Regions from separate parts of the Homo sapiens genome. Here region 1 is linked to region 2. The links come from fine-mapping of genetic effects on gene expression. Tissue or cell type: whole blood. Region 2 holds a variant in brackets; the other region holds the start of a gene. All regions are shown on one strand. Distances are between the middles of the regions.

Region 1 (8,101 bases), 140 kb before region 2:
GGTGGCTCACGCCTGTAATCCCAGCACTTTGGGAGCCCAAGGCGGGTGGATCATGAGGTGAGGAGATCGAGGCCATCCTGACTAACACGGTGAAACCTCATCTCTACTAAAAATACAAAAAACTAGCTGGGCGTGGTAGCGGGTGCCTGTAGTCCTAGCTACTTGGGAGGCTGAGGCAGGAGAATGGCATGAACCCGGGAGGTGGAGCTTGCAGTGAGCCGAGATCATGCCACTGCACTCCAGCCTGGGCGACAGAGCAAGAATCCGTCTCAAAAAAAAAAAAATAGGTTTAGTTGGCTCATGGTTCCACAGGCTTTACAGCAAGCATGGTACTGGCATAGGCTCAGCTTCCAGGGATGCCTCGGGAAGCTTCCCATGATATCGGAAATCAAAGGAGGAGCAGGCACATCACATGGGGAAAAGAGGAGCAAGAGAGAGAGTGGGAGGAGGGAGGTGCTACACACTTTTTTTTTCAAGATGGAGTTTTGCTCTTGTTGCCGAAGCTGGAGTACAATAGCGCGATCTCTGCTCACCAGAACCGCCACCTCCTGGGTTCAAGCGATTCTTCTGCCTCAGCCTTCCTGAGTAGCTGGGATTACAGGCATGCGCCACCACGCCCGGCTAATTTTGTATTTAGTAGAGACGGGGTTTCTCCATGTTGGTCAGGCTGGTCTTGAACTCCTGACCTCAGGTGATCCGCCCACCTTGGCCTCCCAAAGTGCTGGGATTACAGGCATGAGCCACACGCCTGGCCACCACACACTTTTTTTTTTTGAGACGGAGTCTCACTTTGTCGCCAGGCTGGAGTGCAGTGGTGTGATCTCAGCTCACTGCAACCTCTGCCTCCCGGGTTCAAGTGATTCTTCTGCCTCAGCCTCCCAAGTAGCTGGGACCACAGGCGCGTGCCACCACGCCCGGCTACTTTTTTTTTTTTTTTTTTTTTTTTGTATTTTTAGTAGAGACAGAGTTTCACCGTGTTAGCCAGGATAGTCTCAATCTCCTGACCTTGTGATCCACCCACCTCGGCCTCCCAAAGTGATGGGATTACAGGTGTGAACCACCACGCCTGGCCCCGCCACATACTTTTAAATGACCAGATATTGGCTAGTCACGGTGGCTCATGCCTGTAATCTCAGCACTTTGAGAGGCCAAGATGGGGGGGATCACCTGAGGTCAGGAGTTCGAAACCAGCCTGGCCAACATGGTGAAATCTTATCTAAAAATACAAAAGTTAGCTAAGTGTGGTGGTGGGCACCTGTAATTCCAGCTATTTGGGAAGCTGAGGCAGGAGAATCGCTTGAACCCAGGAGGTGGAGGTTGCATTGAGCTGAGATCATGCCACTGCACTCCAGTCTGGGCGACAGAGCAAGATTCCGTCTCAAAAGAAAAAAAAAAGAAAAGGCCTGAACCGAAGCAATAGCAGTGGGAGTGGAATGAAGAGGAAACATTTGAGAGGAAGAATTAATGGTAATCCCTAAACACCTTTACTCAATGCTTCCTAGGAATGTGTTAGGGGATTGTGGGAATAAAGAGCTGAAGTAGCATTTGCTGCTGTCCTCAAGTACCTCAAATCCTATAGAAGCACACCTAAAAATAAAATCATAGATGCAGGGAAGGCCACATTTAGCATCACTGCAGCCAGTGTCACTGAGAGATCACTATGCTTGTGAAATCAGCAAATTAAGGCACCATACATTTCCAAGTGCCTCTGTCATTTACCCCAAGTATCTTTTGTAAGTACCTAAATTGTTATTTTGGTTAAAACACACTACAAGCCCGGGCGCGGTGGCTCACACCTGTAATCCCAGCACTTTGGAAGGCTGAGGTGGGCAGATCATGAGGTCAGGAGATCGAGACCATCCTGGCTAACACGGTGAAACCTCGTCTCTACTAAAAAAAAATACGAAAAATTAGCCAGGCGTGATGGTGGGCGCCTGTAGTCTCAGCTACTCGGGAGGCTAAGGCAGGAGAATGGCGTGAACCCGAGAGGCGGAGCTTGCAGTGAGCCAAGATCGCGCCACTGCACTCCAGCCTGGGCGACAGAGCGATCCTCCGTCTCAAACAAACAAACAAACAAAAAAACCCACTACAGTATACATCTACACCCCACCAATTTTTAGAGGCAGGGTAGTGAGGTTCAGACTGGGCCCACCTCTACCACTTGTCAACACGTGATCTTGGGTAAGCTACCAAATTCTCTTAGCCCATGCTATCACGTGAAGATGAATGAGACTGGAATGTCAGCGAGACAGAGCATGATGGGGCTATAGGAGGGGGGTATGGTCAGATCTTGCAGGGCCGTGTGAACTACCATAAAGGTTTTGGACTTTTCTTCTTTCTTTCTTCTTTTCTTTCTTCTTTCCCTTTTCTTTCTTCTTTCTTCTTCTTCTTCTCCTTCTTCTTTCTTCTTCTTCCGCCTCTCCTTCTTCTTCTTTTTCGTTTAGACATGAGGTGTCACTGTCACCCATGCTAGAGTGCAGCATGCAACCTCAAACTGCAACCTCAAACTCCTGGACTCAAGCGATGCTGCTGTCTCAGGCTTCTGAGTAGGTGGGACTACGGGTGTACACCACCACGCCCGGCTTGGATCTAGTATTCTAAGTTCAATGGGTTGTGTTTTTTGTTCCAATTTATTATAACTTTTCAATTGGAACATAATGTCTACAAATAAATGCAAAAATCTTGCCGAGTTCAATTAGTTTGGACAATTATATACGTCAATGTTATACCACCGAAAACAAAATACAGAACATTTCCATCATCTCAGAACAGTCCCAAGTGCCCCTTTCCTGCTAATTCTCCTTGTCTCCGGAACACTTAAGGGTGCTAAGCATGTTATGTTTGCGGTGGGTTTTTTTTTTAACTTAGATGTGGTAATATATGTTTGCGTTTCCAAAGGATCACTCTGGCTGCCGAGCAGAGGACAGCAATGCGGGTAAAGCACAGGCCAGGCGAGGGATAATCAGGCGGGATTGCACGGAGGTCGCCTAGCAACAGAAAGCGCTGTCGGGGGCGGGGGAACCGCTCTGCTCCTGTGAAAGGAGGAGGCCCCGCCCTCTCCTCGCCCTCTCTCTGCCCCACGCTGTGCGCGAGCACACAGGCAGCCCCGCCCCGCCTCGGCGGGGTGGGGGTGGACAGAGGTTTCTTATTGGTGAGTTTTCCGGAAGCGATGGATTCGGAATCTCGCCCGCAGTCGCGCAAGCGCGAGCGGCTGTGCGCGGTGCGTGGTGCGTGGTGCGTGATACGAGCGGCGGCACGTGGCGCGGGTGCGGGGCGTGGAGTGGCGTGGCGTGGAGTGGCGTGGCGTGGCGGGGTCTCGCGGCGCGGGCGCGCACCCGGAGCTGTGGACGGAGAGTGCCTCCCTCTGGCCTCAGTTTCCTCATGTTGTAGTAGCGGAGCATGGCCCGGACCGGGCCCCCGAGACCGCCCCGTGCAACCTCACCGCCAGCCTGGGGGCCTCAGCGACTGGGACGGGACCAAGGGGCTCGGGGATTCTCCCTGCCCCCGGCCCTGGTGCGTGACTGACCCTCCTGTTCCCAGAGCCCCCAGCGCAGGCCGGGATGTTCGTCCTGGTGGAAATGGTGGACACCGTCCGGATCCCCCCTTGGCAGTTTGAGAGGAAGCTCAACGACTCCATTGCCGAGGAGCTGAACAAGAAGTTGGCCAACAAGGTACTGGGCCCACGGCTCGCGGGCAGGCCTTGGCGTGGGAGAGCGAGCGCCGCCCACTGGCCGCAGGCCCGGCCTCGGTCATGCCAAGCCCTGGCCGTGGGCAAGCAGCTTAATGTCTCAGAACTTTTCTTCACCGTGAAAGGAGATATTGAAGGGGATCAAAAGAAAATGGGCTTGAAAAAGGGAGTTGTAACTGGAAGTGTTAGATTCCACAATTCTAAATTACTTTGCAATTGCAGGCAAGTTACTGACCCCTTCTGGGCCTCAGTTTCCATTTTTAAAATGGGGATAAAATATTGCTGTCCTTCCAGCCATGCATTGTTTTTGTTGTTGTTGTTGTTTGTTTTGTTTTGTTTTGTTTTTTGTTTTTGAGACGGAGTCTTGCTCTTTCGTCCAGGCTGGAGTGCAGTGGCGCGATCTCGGCTCACTGCAACCTCCGCCTCCCGGGTTCAAGCGATTCTCCTGCCCCAGCCTCCCGAGTAGCTGGGACAACTACAGGCGCGCGCCACCACCCCCAGCTAATTTTTGTATTTTTCGTAGAGACGGGGTTTCACCATTTTGGCCAGGATGGTCTCGATCTCTTGATCCCCCCGCCTCGGCCTCCCAAAGTGCTGGGATTACAGGTGTGCGCCATCGCCTCGGGTCAATGCATTGTTTTCGTGAAGATGGAGAGTTCTAGTAGTACAGAATTAACTGTCAGGAGGTTCATCCCTTCATTCCAGCAGCCAATATTTGTGCGCCTTCTCTGTGCTGTGCCTGTGTGCCTTAGTACCAGCTGAGAGGTCTTCCCACTGCCGTTTCTTTGACAGTCCTCCCTTTCCAGGTATTCTGTGTCACATCACTCTCTTTCCTTCTTAGACTTTTTCCTTTCCCTCTCCTTGAGAGCAGGGACCTTATCTGCCTTCTTCCCTGAAGTATCCCCTCATTTAGCCAAAGCCTGGCGGGAGTAGATGTCCCATAATTTTCTGTTTTGTGTTTGTGTGTGTGAGACAAGAGTGCCGCTCTTGTCGCCCAGGCTGGGGTGCAATGAAGCGATCTTGGCTCACTGCAACCTCCACCTCCCAGGTTCAAGCTATTCTTCTGCTTCAGCCTCCTGAGTAGCTGGGATTACAGGCACCTGCCACCACACCTGGCTAATTTTTGTACTTTTAGTAGAGACGGGGTTTCACCATGTTGGCCAGGCTGGTCTCAAACTTCTGACCTCAGGTGATCTGCCTGCCTCAGCCTCCCAAAGTGCTGGAATTACAGGTGTGAGCCACCGTGCCCGGCCATTTGTTGACTGAATGAATGAAACAGAGACAAGGCTCTGTGCTATAGTGTGGTGGGAAAGCAGATATGAATGAGAAGGGTCCACAGTTGAGTGTTTGGTGACAAATTGAGGTAAATGTTATGAGGGACAGGTGTTCACACACCTGTGGAACAAAGGAACGTCCCCTGGAATGAGGGGACCTGCAGCTTTGTTGAGGAGGTGGGGTTGAAGGTGAGATCTGATGGTGAAGTGGAGCCAACCAGAGGATTCCTTTCTAGGGTGGGAGGGGGCTGGGTGGAGAGAAGAGCCCTGAAGGCAGGAACTGGCATGTGCAAAGGCCCTGTGAAGAAGGAATACAGGCCGGGCGTGGGGGCTCACACCTGTAATCCCACCACTTTGGGAGGCTGAGGCGGGTGGATCACCCAAGGTCAGGAGTTTGAGACCAGCCTGTCCAACATGGTGAAGCCCCATGTCTACTAAAAATACAAAAAATAGCTGGGCATGGTGGCAGGCACCTGTAATCCCGGCTACTTGGGAGGCAGAGGGAGAAGAATCACTTGAACCCAGGAGGCAGAGGTTGCAGTGAGCTGAAATCGCACCACTGCCTTCCAGCCTGGGTGACAAGAGTGAAACTTCGCTTCAAAAAAAAAAGAAGAAGGGGTAAAATACCCACCATGGTGTGGAAGAGGCTGGTGTGGCTTGGGCAGAGGGGAGGGTGGGCTGGACAGGTGGGTGGGGGCCAGGCCACACAGCCCTGTAGGATGTCGGAGTTGAGGTATTGGTCTTTATCCGTGGAGCATCAGAAGGTGATGGGCTGAGAAGGAGCCAGAAAGAGGATGCTTAGCTGGCTTTACGCATGAGACAGGTCCCTTCAGAAGAGGTGAGGTTGATTTGGGGGTTGCTAGATAGTGAAGGGAACTCATGGAGTCTTTAAGTGGATGGCTTCTGGTTACTTTGTGAGGTTGAAGATGAGGGTCTGTTGGGGGATGGAGGTGTGGACCTTGAGAGAGAAGGTGTGGAAAGTCCAAGAAGGGAATATAGTCCCTTTGGGGTAGAGGTCCTGTTGGGACAAGTCTTCTAGTATTTGATTAGATGAATCGTTTGAGAGGGGGCCCACACAGAAATCCATGGTCTGACAAAGGGCACAGATCTTGTGGCATTATCTTGGTGAGGTCTGGCCACGACTCTGAGTTCTCTGAGCTTCTTGCTAATTCTTGGACAGTTCTTGCAAGGGTTCTAAGTGGGGGTGATGACACGGTGGCAGATAAGGAGACACTGAGTAGCCAGTCGTTTGAACCACAGTGGTGTGGGGTGAGGGCATGGGATTTCTGCACATTCTTGGGGCCTAGGTCTTGTGTCCCTCTGCCAGCTGCAGTCCCTGTGGCTGCGTCTGTGTGTCTGAGATGTTGTGAGCACAGTGGGGTTTAGCTGTGGCTGTGACGCTCACTAAACTGTGAGCTCTGGCATTGGCTTTGGGATGTCGGAGAGTGCACGTTTAGGCAGCATTCCTGTCACTGGTCCTCACTAGTAATAACAAAGATCCTTGATGATGATGGTTTCCAATACACGAGCCAGGTACAAGGCTAGGGGCTTCACATCTGTTATCTCTCTTTATTTTATAACTCTGCAGCCTGGTATTTCACATTTGCAGATGGGGAGACCGAGGCTCAGAGAGGTGAAGTGACCCTCTTGGCAGTCACACAGTGGGTGGTGGAGCTGGCCTTGGAACCTGGACCTGTTTTGTCACCCGAGGCCCTGCTCCTTCCAGAGCTCTGCATCCTTCTGAGGTTCCTTACCCTGGTCCCCTCCACAAACTCATTTTCACCTAAAAAAGGAGATAATCATGGCTTGCTTGTGGTTGTGAGGGGCTCAGATTGCCTGGGAGCTGGGCCTGTGGTCACTCTGTATCCATGTGTACTTGTGTGTCTGTGTTTGTATGCATGCAGGTCGTGTACAACGTGGGACTCTGCATTTGTCTGTTTGATATCACCAAACTGGAGGATGCCTATGTATTCCCTGGGGATGGCGCATCACACACCAAAGGTGGGTATCTTCTGTCCCTGGGGCATTGGGCTTCTTGGGGCTCAGTTTTCTGTAGCCAAAGGTCAAGCCAAATCCAGGTTCAGTGGTGCGTGCCTGTAAGGCTGAGGGCGGAAGGATCTCTTGAGCCACAGAGTTCAAGGCCAGCCTGGGCAACATAGCAAGACCCTGTCTTTAAATACATAAATAAAATATGAAAAAATTTTAAAAGGCTAAAGTCAAAGAGATGGCCAGAGGGTGGTGGGAGTCCTGGAGGCTGGGAGACGTGGGGCCTCATCCTGAATCGGCCAGGAATTGACCCGGTGACAGCGGCAGACTTCTCTTCTCTGGGCCTCTGTTCCCTCATCTGTGAGGCCTGGGATGTGGACTAGTTGGTTTTCAAGGCCTCTTCAGCTCTGACTTCATAGCTCTGTGTCTGTGCCCTTTTGGTCTCATTGCTACTGAGCCCTGCACCTTGTCCATTCCTCGGGCTTCCCGCTGCCTGTGGAGAGCAGACGGAAGGGGGATCAGCAGGCTGGCTGGGGGTGGGGGACTTGGATAGTAGGACACAGTAGGTAAGAGTGTGGCCTCAAGATTAAAAGCTGAGCTCTGCTTCTTACTAGCTGTGTGTCCTGGCTGAATATGTCATTGCTCTGTGCCTCTGCTTCCTTATCTGTCAGTTGCAGTTCAGGATGTCAACTGCAGTTTAGGATAGATTTTATATTCTAAGACCATTGTGAGGATTAAGGAGTTAATACATGAAAGCTCTTAGGACAGAGCCTTGGCACCTAACGAGCACTCAGTGACTTATCAGCGTGGATTGTTTCTCCCTATTCTGTCGGTCAGTTGGGTGGTTTTCCTCTCATCTGGCTGGCCTGGGGCTGGACAATCTAGGACGGTCTCACATTCTGAAGGTTGGCAGACTGGTTGGTTACTGGGGGCCTGGGCTGGGCTGGCCCATCTCTGCCCCACATGGTCTCATCTTTCAGTAGGCCAGGCTGGGCTTGGCGGTTTTAAGGTTCCAAAGTTCAGTGCGTAAGTACTTCTCAAGCCTCTGCTTCCATCCCGTTGGCTAGGGTGAGGGGATGGAGAAATAGACTTCACCTCTGGGTGGGAGAAACTGCAGTCACATTGCAAAAGGGTGTGCATCCAGGAATGGAAG
Region 2 (8,101 bases):
GGTTTAAGCAATTCTCCTGCCTCAGCCTCCCAAGCAGCTGGGATTACAGGCGTGCGCCACCACGCTCAGCTAATTTTTGTCTTTTTAGTAGAGACGGGCTTTCTCCATGTTGGTCAGGCTGGTCTTGAACTCCCAACCTCAGGTGATCTGCCCGCCTTAGCCTCCCAAAGTGCTGGGATGACAGGCATGAGCCACCGCACCCAGCCACCTCAAGCTCTTTTATATCCATTCGTGAGGGTGGAGGCCTTACGATGTAAACACCTTCCATTAAGACCCACCTCCCAACACTATTGCATTAGGGATTAAGTTTCCAACCCATATATTCTGGGGAGACATTCAAACCATAGCACCGTCCTGCGTGCTGTACGCTGGGAAGACATAAGAACAGTGAGGAATGGTGCACCGGGCCTTGTGCCTTAAGAGGGAGGGCCAGCTGGAGGCAACACACTGAGGCCCTTGTCCTGTCCCCTCTACCTCTGATCCTTGACCTTTGCCCCGTCCCCTCTACCTCCCTGTAGTCTGGACTTCCTGGAGTCAGCCTGAAATCCAGACCTGAGTGGACGCCCACTACTCTGTTTGGAGAAACCTATGGGACAGCTAGGCAGTGGCTTGCTGTGTGCCTAGCTCCTGATGACAGAGCTGCAGCTTAAAATAAAAGCCTCCTGCTCAGCACTTACTTAATCCTGAGGGGACCGGGCATCAGGACGCATGGTTGCGAGGATTTGCTTAAGTGAGAGGCTGATGAAAGCTCCCTGAGGGCTGGCTGGGGGGTTGGGGCACCCATCTTAAAACCTGTTTCTGATTTCCTTTGCTGCTCACCCCTATCTCTGGCTGGCAGCTTTCCCGGATTAGCTGCTGACGTCAGGAGCTGCCAGCTGGGCCAGCCTGGCACAGCCACGGGGCAGTGTGTGAAGGGCTGTCTGGTAATAGGGTGCAGTAAAGGAAGGGGGCATGTGTCCAGCTTCGGAATTTGTCCTTGAAGGAGCTGGGGTGGAGGGGAAGGAGAAGGGTCGAGATGTGCTGTCAGGCACGCACATGTGACCTGTGTAGCGCATCCTTGTTGGACAGAGAGAGAAACAGCTCAGGGAAATGGATAAGTTGTCCAAGACCACACAGCTGGTCTGACCCTGGCTGCATCCCACACCAGCTGGTAGACAACCCGCGATGGGCAGCAGCTGCTGGGACTGGAGGTGATGGTCTCCATGTAGGTCCGTACCTTCCTCTCTGTCACCATAATGGCAGCTGCTGAGTGGTGTTTGCCCTGCTCCAGGTGTCTTCGTGGGACAACTGTCTTATGAAGCTGGTGTTCGTTTTTGCTTTTGTTTTTTTTTTTTTGAGATGGAGTTTCGCCTTGTTGCCCAAGCTGGAGTGCAATGGCACTATCTCGGCTCACCGCAACCTCTGCCTCCTGGGTTCAAGTGATTCTCCTGCCTCAGCCTCCTGAGTAGCTGGGATTACAGGCATGTGCCACCATGCCTGGCTAATTTTGTATTTTTAGTAGACAGGGTTTCTCCATGTTGGTCAGGCTGGTCTCGAACTCCTGACTTCATGATCCACCTGCCTCGGCCTCCCAAAGTGCTGGGATTACAGGCGTAAGCCACCGCCCGGCCGCTGGTGTTCCATTCTACAGGTGAGAAACTGGAAGCCCAGAGAAGGGAAGTGACTTGCCCACGATCATACCCCAAATTGGTGATGGAGGCAGGGTTTGATCCTAGGACCGTCGGAGTCCAAAGCCAGTGCTCTGCCATACATACAGAGATTTCACAGCTTTGACATGTTTCAAGCCCATGCCCCTGTGCTTGCCGTGGCTGCACAGATCTCCGCTTTGAGAGAGCGCATTTGCATGCAGAGTAGAAAATACAGAGGGGGCCAGGCGCGGTGGCTCACACCTGTAATCCCAGCACTTTGGGAGGCCAAGGTGGGTGGATCACTTGAGGTCAGGAGTTCAAGACCAGCCTGGCCAGGCTGGGCACGCTGGCTCACGCCTGTAATCCCAGCACTTTGGGAGGCCGAGGTGGGACGATCACAAGGTCAGGAGATTGAGATCATCCTGGATGATACGGTGAAACCCCGTCTCTACTAAAAAATCAAAAAAAAAAAAAGTTAACTGGGCTTGGTGGCAGGCACCTGTAGTCCCAGCTACTTGGGGGAGGCTGAGGCAGGAGAATGGCGTGAACCCGGGAGGTGGAGCTTGCAGTGAGCCGAGATCACACCACTGCACTCCAGCCTGGGTGACTGAGCGATAGTCTCAAAAATAAATAAATAAAAATAAAAATATATATATAAAAGAAATATTTGCAGGCTGGGCGTGGTAGCTCATGCCAGTAATCCCAACACTTTGGGAGGCCGGAGGTAGGCGGATTGCCTGAGTTCGGGAGGCCGAGGCGGGCAGATTGCCTGAGCTCAGGAGTTCGAGACCAGCCTGGCCAACATGGTGAAACCCTGTCTCTACTAAAAATACAAAAAATTGGCCGGGTGTAGCAGCATGCGCCTCTAGTCCCAGCTACTTGGGAGGCTGAGGTGGAGAATCGCTTGAACCCGGGAGGCGGAGGTGCAGTAAGCCGAGATCCCACCACTGCACTCAAGCCTGGTGACAGAGCAAGACTCTGTCCCCCCCCCCAAAAAAAATTATAAATGTTTTATAGCCAAAGAACAGGAGAAAAGGAAAACCCTCAAGAGTCCCACCAAGAGGATCCAACTCTTTAGTCCTCTCGGTTTTTTTTGTTTTGTTTTGTTTTGTTTTGTTTTTGAGACAAGTGTCGCTCTATCGCCCAGGCTGGAGTGCAGTGGCGCAACCTTGGCTCATTGCAACCTCCACCTCCCAGGTTCAAGCAGCTCTCCAGCCTCTGCCTCCCAAGTGGCTGGGATTACAGGCCTGCACCACCATGCCCAGCTAATTTTTGTATTTTTAGTAGAGACAGGGTTTCACCATGTTGGCCAGGCTGGACTCAAACGGACTCAAACTCCTGACCTCAAGTGATCTGCCTGCCTCGGCCTCCCAAAGCACTTGGATTACAGGCGTGAGCCACCGTGCCTGTCCTTTCCTTTTTTTTTTTTTTTTTTTAGATGGAGTCTCGCTCTGCTGCCCAAGCTGGAGTGCAGTGGCATGGTCTCAGCTCACTGCAACCTCTGCATCCCAGGTTCAAGCGATTCTCATGCCTCAGCCTCCTGAGTAGCTGGGATTACAGGTGTCCGCCACCACGCTCGGCTAATTTTTTGTATTTTTAGTAGAGATGGGGTTTCACCATATTGGTCAGGCTGGTCTCGAACTCCTGACTTTGTGATTTGCCTGCCTTGGCCTCCCAAAGTGCTGGGATTACAGGCGTGAGCCACCGCGCCCAGCCCTTTCTTTTCTTTACAGAGCTGCCATCACGCATTCTCTATTCGAGAACACTTGTCATAAGCAGTTCCCTGTCTTCTAGTTGTGTAGCACCTTTACCTGTTCAAACTGCTTTTGGTCTAATATTTGTCCCTCCTCAATATAAGCAAGGCGAGAATCACTTCCATCTGATAGATGAGGAAACTGAGGCAGAGTGGTTGGGGTCAGATGCTAAGAGTGTCTGGACTGTGATGAAGGGGGTGTCTGGGGTGGATTCTAATGAGATAAAAGTTTTCCAGCTTGACTCTCCAGCTCCTAGGCCAACACTCAAGAGAGGAAACTCAGGGTTGGGGGTGGGGAGAAGGACAGAAAAGACAATCCCAACATTCTCATTTCAAAATATTTAATTTTGTCTGAAAAGGATACATTCCCGGCTTCCCTCCCACCACATCACTCCGGCCCACCAGCAGTGACACACTCGCACGCACACACGCACATAAGGCCAATGGGCTACGGTCTGCTTCTGCCCTCTCTGGCTGGGAAGAAGGAATTTCTCTCTTGCCTCCTTCCCCCAACAAAGGTAAAGAGAGGGGCCCGCTGGAATGCCAGCTCCCAGGGAAGGACACAGAGCCCCACACACTCTATCACATCACATGCACTTAGAAAAATAAAACCAAGTGGTGTTCTGGCATCCCCAACACCGTAAGAGAGCAATATCCACCTGGAAGTCATCTTTGCCATTTTCTAGAAAAATTTATTGCACTTAATTAGCAGATGTTAAAGGAGCTCTGGAGTAGAGCTTTGCCATGAAAACCAGATGCTCCTCGGCCCTTTGCGTTCCAAGGAGCACGGCTCCCGGGGCCCAGGTAGAGGGCTGCCCAGCTTCAGAGGGGTTTTCCCCCACTGGCTTGCATGCCT[C/G]CCGCCCTGCCTCAGGCCAAAGGACCGTAGGAGCGGCCTGCACAGCCCCTCAGCAGGGTTACATGTACCCAGACTTAAGGTTCACTGCTAAGTGCCCCCTCCAACCTCAGAAGCCAGACAGGAAAACCTCTTCCTTTGGCCAAGGGTAAGAGTTACCCAGGTCCTCCACAAAGTTGCCATAAACCTTGAAAACTCTCCCTCTCTCTAAATGCACACGTTCCTCCATCAGATGAGACATTTATAATATGAATATTCTTGCAAAGTTCCAGCTCATTCATGATTTGTCTGTTCTGAGGTTGCACTGAGGGTGCCACAAAGCTTTAGACAGGATGCTTAGGAAGTAGACGGCACTTCCAAGCCCATCGGGAACCCACAGAAAGCCAAGGTAAAGTCAACTTCTCTAGCCTCCAGTGACTGACAGATGTCAAAGATCCAAGCACAGGAGCCGCAGTCTCCAGCGGTCGGCCTCCAAGAAGCAGAGGGCCCAGGAGGGAGCCGAGGAGACTCCCATTCCCTCGACAGAAACTGAGCAGGCACCAACCCTCTCCTGCAAGCATGGATTTTTTTAGGACAGGAGAGGAGACAACCTTACCTGAGCACTTCTTTTCCCCCACAGGTCAGCCTCTGTGGACATCCTCCATCTTGTCCCCACCAGGCTCCTGACTCAGAGGGGCATTTCGAAAAGAGTCCAGCAGCCACACTCTTTCCAAGTAAGCACTTTGGGAAAGAACCCGATACCCACTGCCTGGGGGAAAGAAGGGAGGGCACCAAACAGGCAGAGGGCGGGATAAAGAGGAGACACATCGAGCCACCATCCCAGCCACCGGGCTCGGAACATGGACACCAGAGATTTAGTGTCCATCCTTAAAAAAATAAAACTGCAAAAACACAAACCATATACTTTCCGGCAAAGAAAATGAAGAGCTTTTAAGCTCAAGGCTCTTCCACTAATAACAAAATGAGAACCGCCCTCTTGGTGATCCACCAGGCCAGAGGGAGCGTGCCCGGGAGGGAGAGCTGCCCGGGGCAGGACACTGACATGCTGGATGCGCCTGCCCTGTGTGGTTACAATAGAGTGAAAGTGTGTACATGGTTTTTAGAGAACCACAAAGTAAAAGTCAGGGGCCTGGAGGGAGGAGTGACCTCCCTTGGCCTCAGGGCCCCTTGTCAAGTCCCCCGGAGAGGTGGGTGTGCAGGTCCCCAAAGGGCCGTGGCATTCCCCTGGGGTGAGGTCCACGGCTTGGTCTTAACGTCTGTTATGAAAAGTCTTTAGAGGTCAGGGCCTGGGACTCTGAACCACCACGGTAAATAAAGCCAGTGTTACGGAGGACGAAGCACGCCCATCGCCTCTGTCTCCTCTTCACCATAGGCTGCCCGCCCTGAGCAAATAAACACACCCATCTCAGGGGTGTCCCAGTGACCCAAATGAGCAGAGGCTTCCATGAGTTTCCTCAGTGAATCTTCTGAGCACAGCAAAAGGGCGAGTCCCGCCACACAAGAGAAAGGAGTCGTTGTGAGGCAGGGGAGACCACAGCTGTGAGAAGCCACAGCATGGCCAGCCTCACGAGTGGCCCCCATCTCCTGGGACCAAGACTGAGGGGACCCTAGGCCTGTGTAAAAGTCCCAAGAGCCTGCTATCCCGTGAAAGTGGCACTGTGACCTTGGTGACTCTAGACTAGGTGTCTTGCCCTGCTGACACCCTCCGGGCAGCTCGCATGGGAGAGATCCTGAAGCAAGAATTGCGAGGCCCCAGCTGCCCCCAGGGAGAGTGCACTCCAGCCCAGGCCACACCGGTGAGCAGAGCAAGAAAAAAGGGAGCTTCTCAAGAAACACACCCCAGCTCTCATGCCCATGGTGGAAGGGGGCTGTGGAGGCATTTTCTAAACACCACTAGGAAGGTGAATCCTGGGGTCCAGGAAGTTAAAGCCTCCTAGATAAGAGGGGTTTTCCTTTTAAATCTATGATCCAAGACTGGACATTGGGTGGAAAGAAAGAGCAGGCCCAGAGGCCTGGTCTAGTGGGACAAACGAGCTTCACATGGCCTCTGAGTAGCCTGGAGAGGAAATGAAGAGGCCTCTCTCAGCCCTGGCACTCATGGCTCAGACAGCAGCCATCCTAGGAGTCTCTCCTCCACAGCCAATGAAATGCAGAGACAGCCGATGGCCTCAGAGCCATAAGGGAAAAGGGGTGCGGGAGCCGAGAAACGCTGGGCACACTTCTGCTGCAGGCCCCAGCCCCAAGCCCCATCCCAGGCTGTGCAGAGACCCCACTCCTGCAGCCTGCTACCCATGCAGACACTGACGGAGGAGCTGGTGTGTCCTGCTTCCAAGGAAGATGGGAACAGATGTTACTCAAAGACTGTCTGGGGAGAATGAGGTGCGTGACAGACACACCTTAAGTGGAAACGCGCCCTGCTACCTGAGAAGACATAGGGTGACAATGATCACAACTCATTCTGCAGAGATAGCCCTCGGCAGCCCAGGCTGGAGACTGAGGGAGAGTCCAGGGACCCTGAGCGCCCAGGAGAGAGGTGTGTACTCCAGAGGTCCCCTTCTGATTCAACTGGGACATCCAAGAATAGAAACTAAGGCTGAGTCACCCATCTACGCAGATTCTCTTGCGTTCCCCACCAGTGAGGAGACTGGCCCCTCAGGGACGTCGCCACGTGCGCAGGCCATGGTATAATGAAGCTGAGACGTGGCCGCTCCTGCAGCAGGTGCGCCGCCATGCGCCCACGACGAGTCATAAGTCTCCACGCGTGTGAGGGGTTACAGGGAGCCCCCAGGCAGAGGTCTGAGGTGCAGGCAGTACCCCGCCCGGGCGGGGGGCACGGGTTACAAGGGCCCGTATTTGGTCTCATACTTGGACACGATGGTCTTGCACTTGCCCACCTCCTTGCGTAGCTCGGCCACCTCCGTCCGCAGGGCTGTGTTCTCCTTCTCCAGGAAGGCTGCCCGGATGGTGATCTGATTCTCTTTCAGGCGCCGGGCATCCCGTGACCGTTTAGCTGCCACGTTGTTCTTCTTGCGTCTTGTCCAGTACTTTTCATCCTGTGGGGAAGTGCCCTCTGTGAGTCTCTCGTCTTTCCCCACGAGAGAACCCAATTTTTCCACTCCCACCACCTGGATTCCCCTAACTCATCTGGTGTGGCCAGAGCTAAAGCAGGGATACCAGGGAGGGAGCAGCACAAACCAGGGCACATTGAGGGCACTGCCCTTTCCTCGGGGGCAGGACGAGAAACAAAAGTTATTTGGTACGTTACATGGTGAAGAGAAGGAGACTCATCTCCTGGAGGCCTGGTACCTGCTGCTCCAGCACAAAGCATTGCACTGTCCACACCCTTGCCTTACTTAGGCATGTTGGTTGTGGGTAAGGGCCTAGATCCCCGAGTTCAGATCTTGGCTCTCCAAGATTACTAGCAGTGAAACTGTGCAAGTACTTTAACCCCTCAATATCACAGGTCCCTTATCTTTACACTGAGAAATAACAGGCCAGGCATGGTGGCTCACACCTGTAATCCCAGCATTTTGGGAGGCTGAGGCAGGTGGATCACTTGAGGTGAGGAGTTTAAGACCAGCCTGGCCAATATGATGAAACCCCATCTCTACTAAGAATACAAAAATTAGCCGGCGTGGTGGTGCACATCTGTAATCTCAGCTACTCAGGAGGGTGAGGCACAAGAATCGGTTGAACCTGGGAGGCGGAAGTTGCAGTGAGCCGAGATCACGCCACTGCACTCCAGCCTGGGTGACAAAGTGAGACTCTGTCTCAAAAACAAAACAAAACAAAAACAAACAAAACAAAAATCAGTGCCTGGCCTACAGTGAGTACCATCTAAATATTCACCATGATCATCACATCATT

The links. PIP is the estimated chance that this variant, and not a neighbour inherited with it, causes the effect.
Region 1: POLR3H starts here. The variant in region 2 is fine-mapped to the expression of POLR3H in whole blood (TOPMed, PIP above 0.99).

The regions. Positions count from the first base shown.
Region 1 is chr22:41,539,561-41,547,661 of GRCh38, reverse strand. POLR3H (RNA polymerase III subunit H) reads left to right here and starts at 3,192. Exons shown (of 6, transcript NM_001018050.4): 1 at 3,192-3,671; 2 at 6,867-6,963. The coding sequence starts at 3,561. RefSeq lists silencers at 3,002-3,101, 3,292-3,421 and enhancers at 3,472-3,561, 3,572-3,671, 2,994-3,831.
Region 2 is chr22:41,394,931-41,403,031 of GRCh38, reverse strand. It overlaps TEF (TEF transcription factor, PAR bZIP family member), which reads right to left. Exons shown (of 4, transcript NM_003216.4): 4 at 3,706-7,287. The coding sequence ends at 7,072. Among named protein-coding and RNA genes, the nearest start is that of TEF, 17 kb to the right of the region's middle. RefSeq lists a cis regulatory region at 485-498 and an enhancer at 420-564. The variant C/G (reference allele first, on the strand shown) is at 4,238.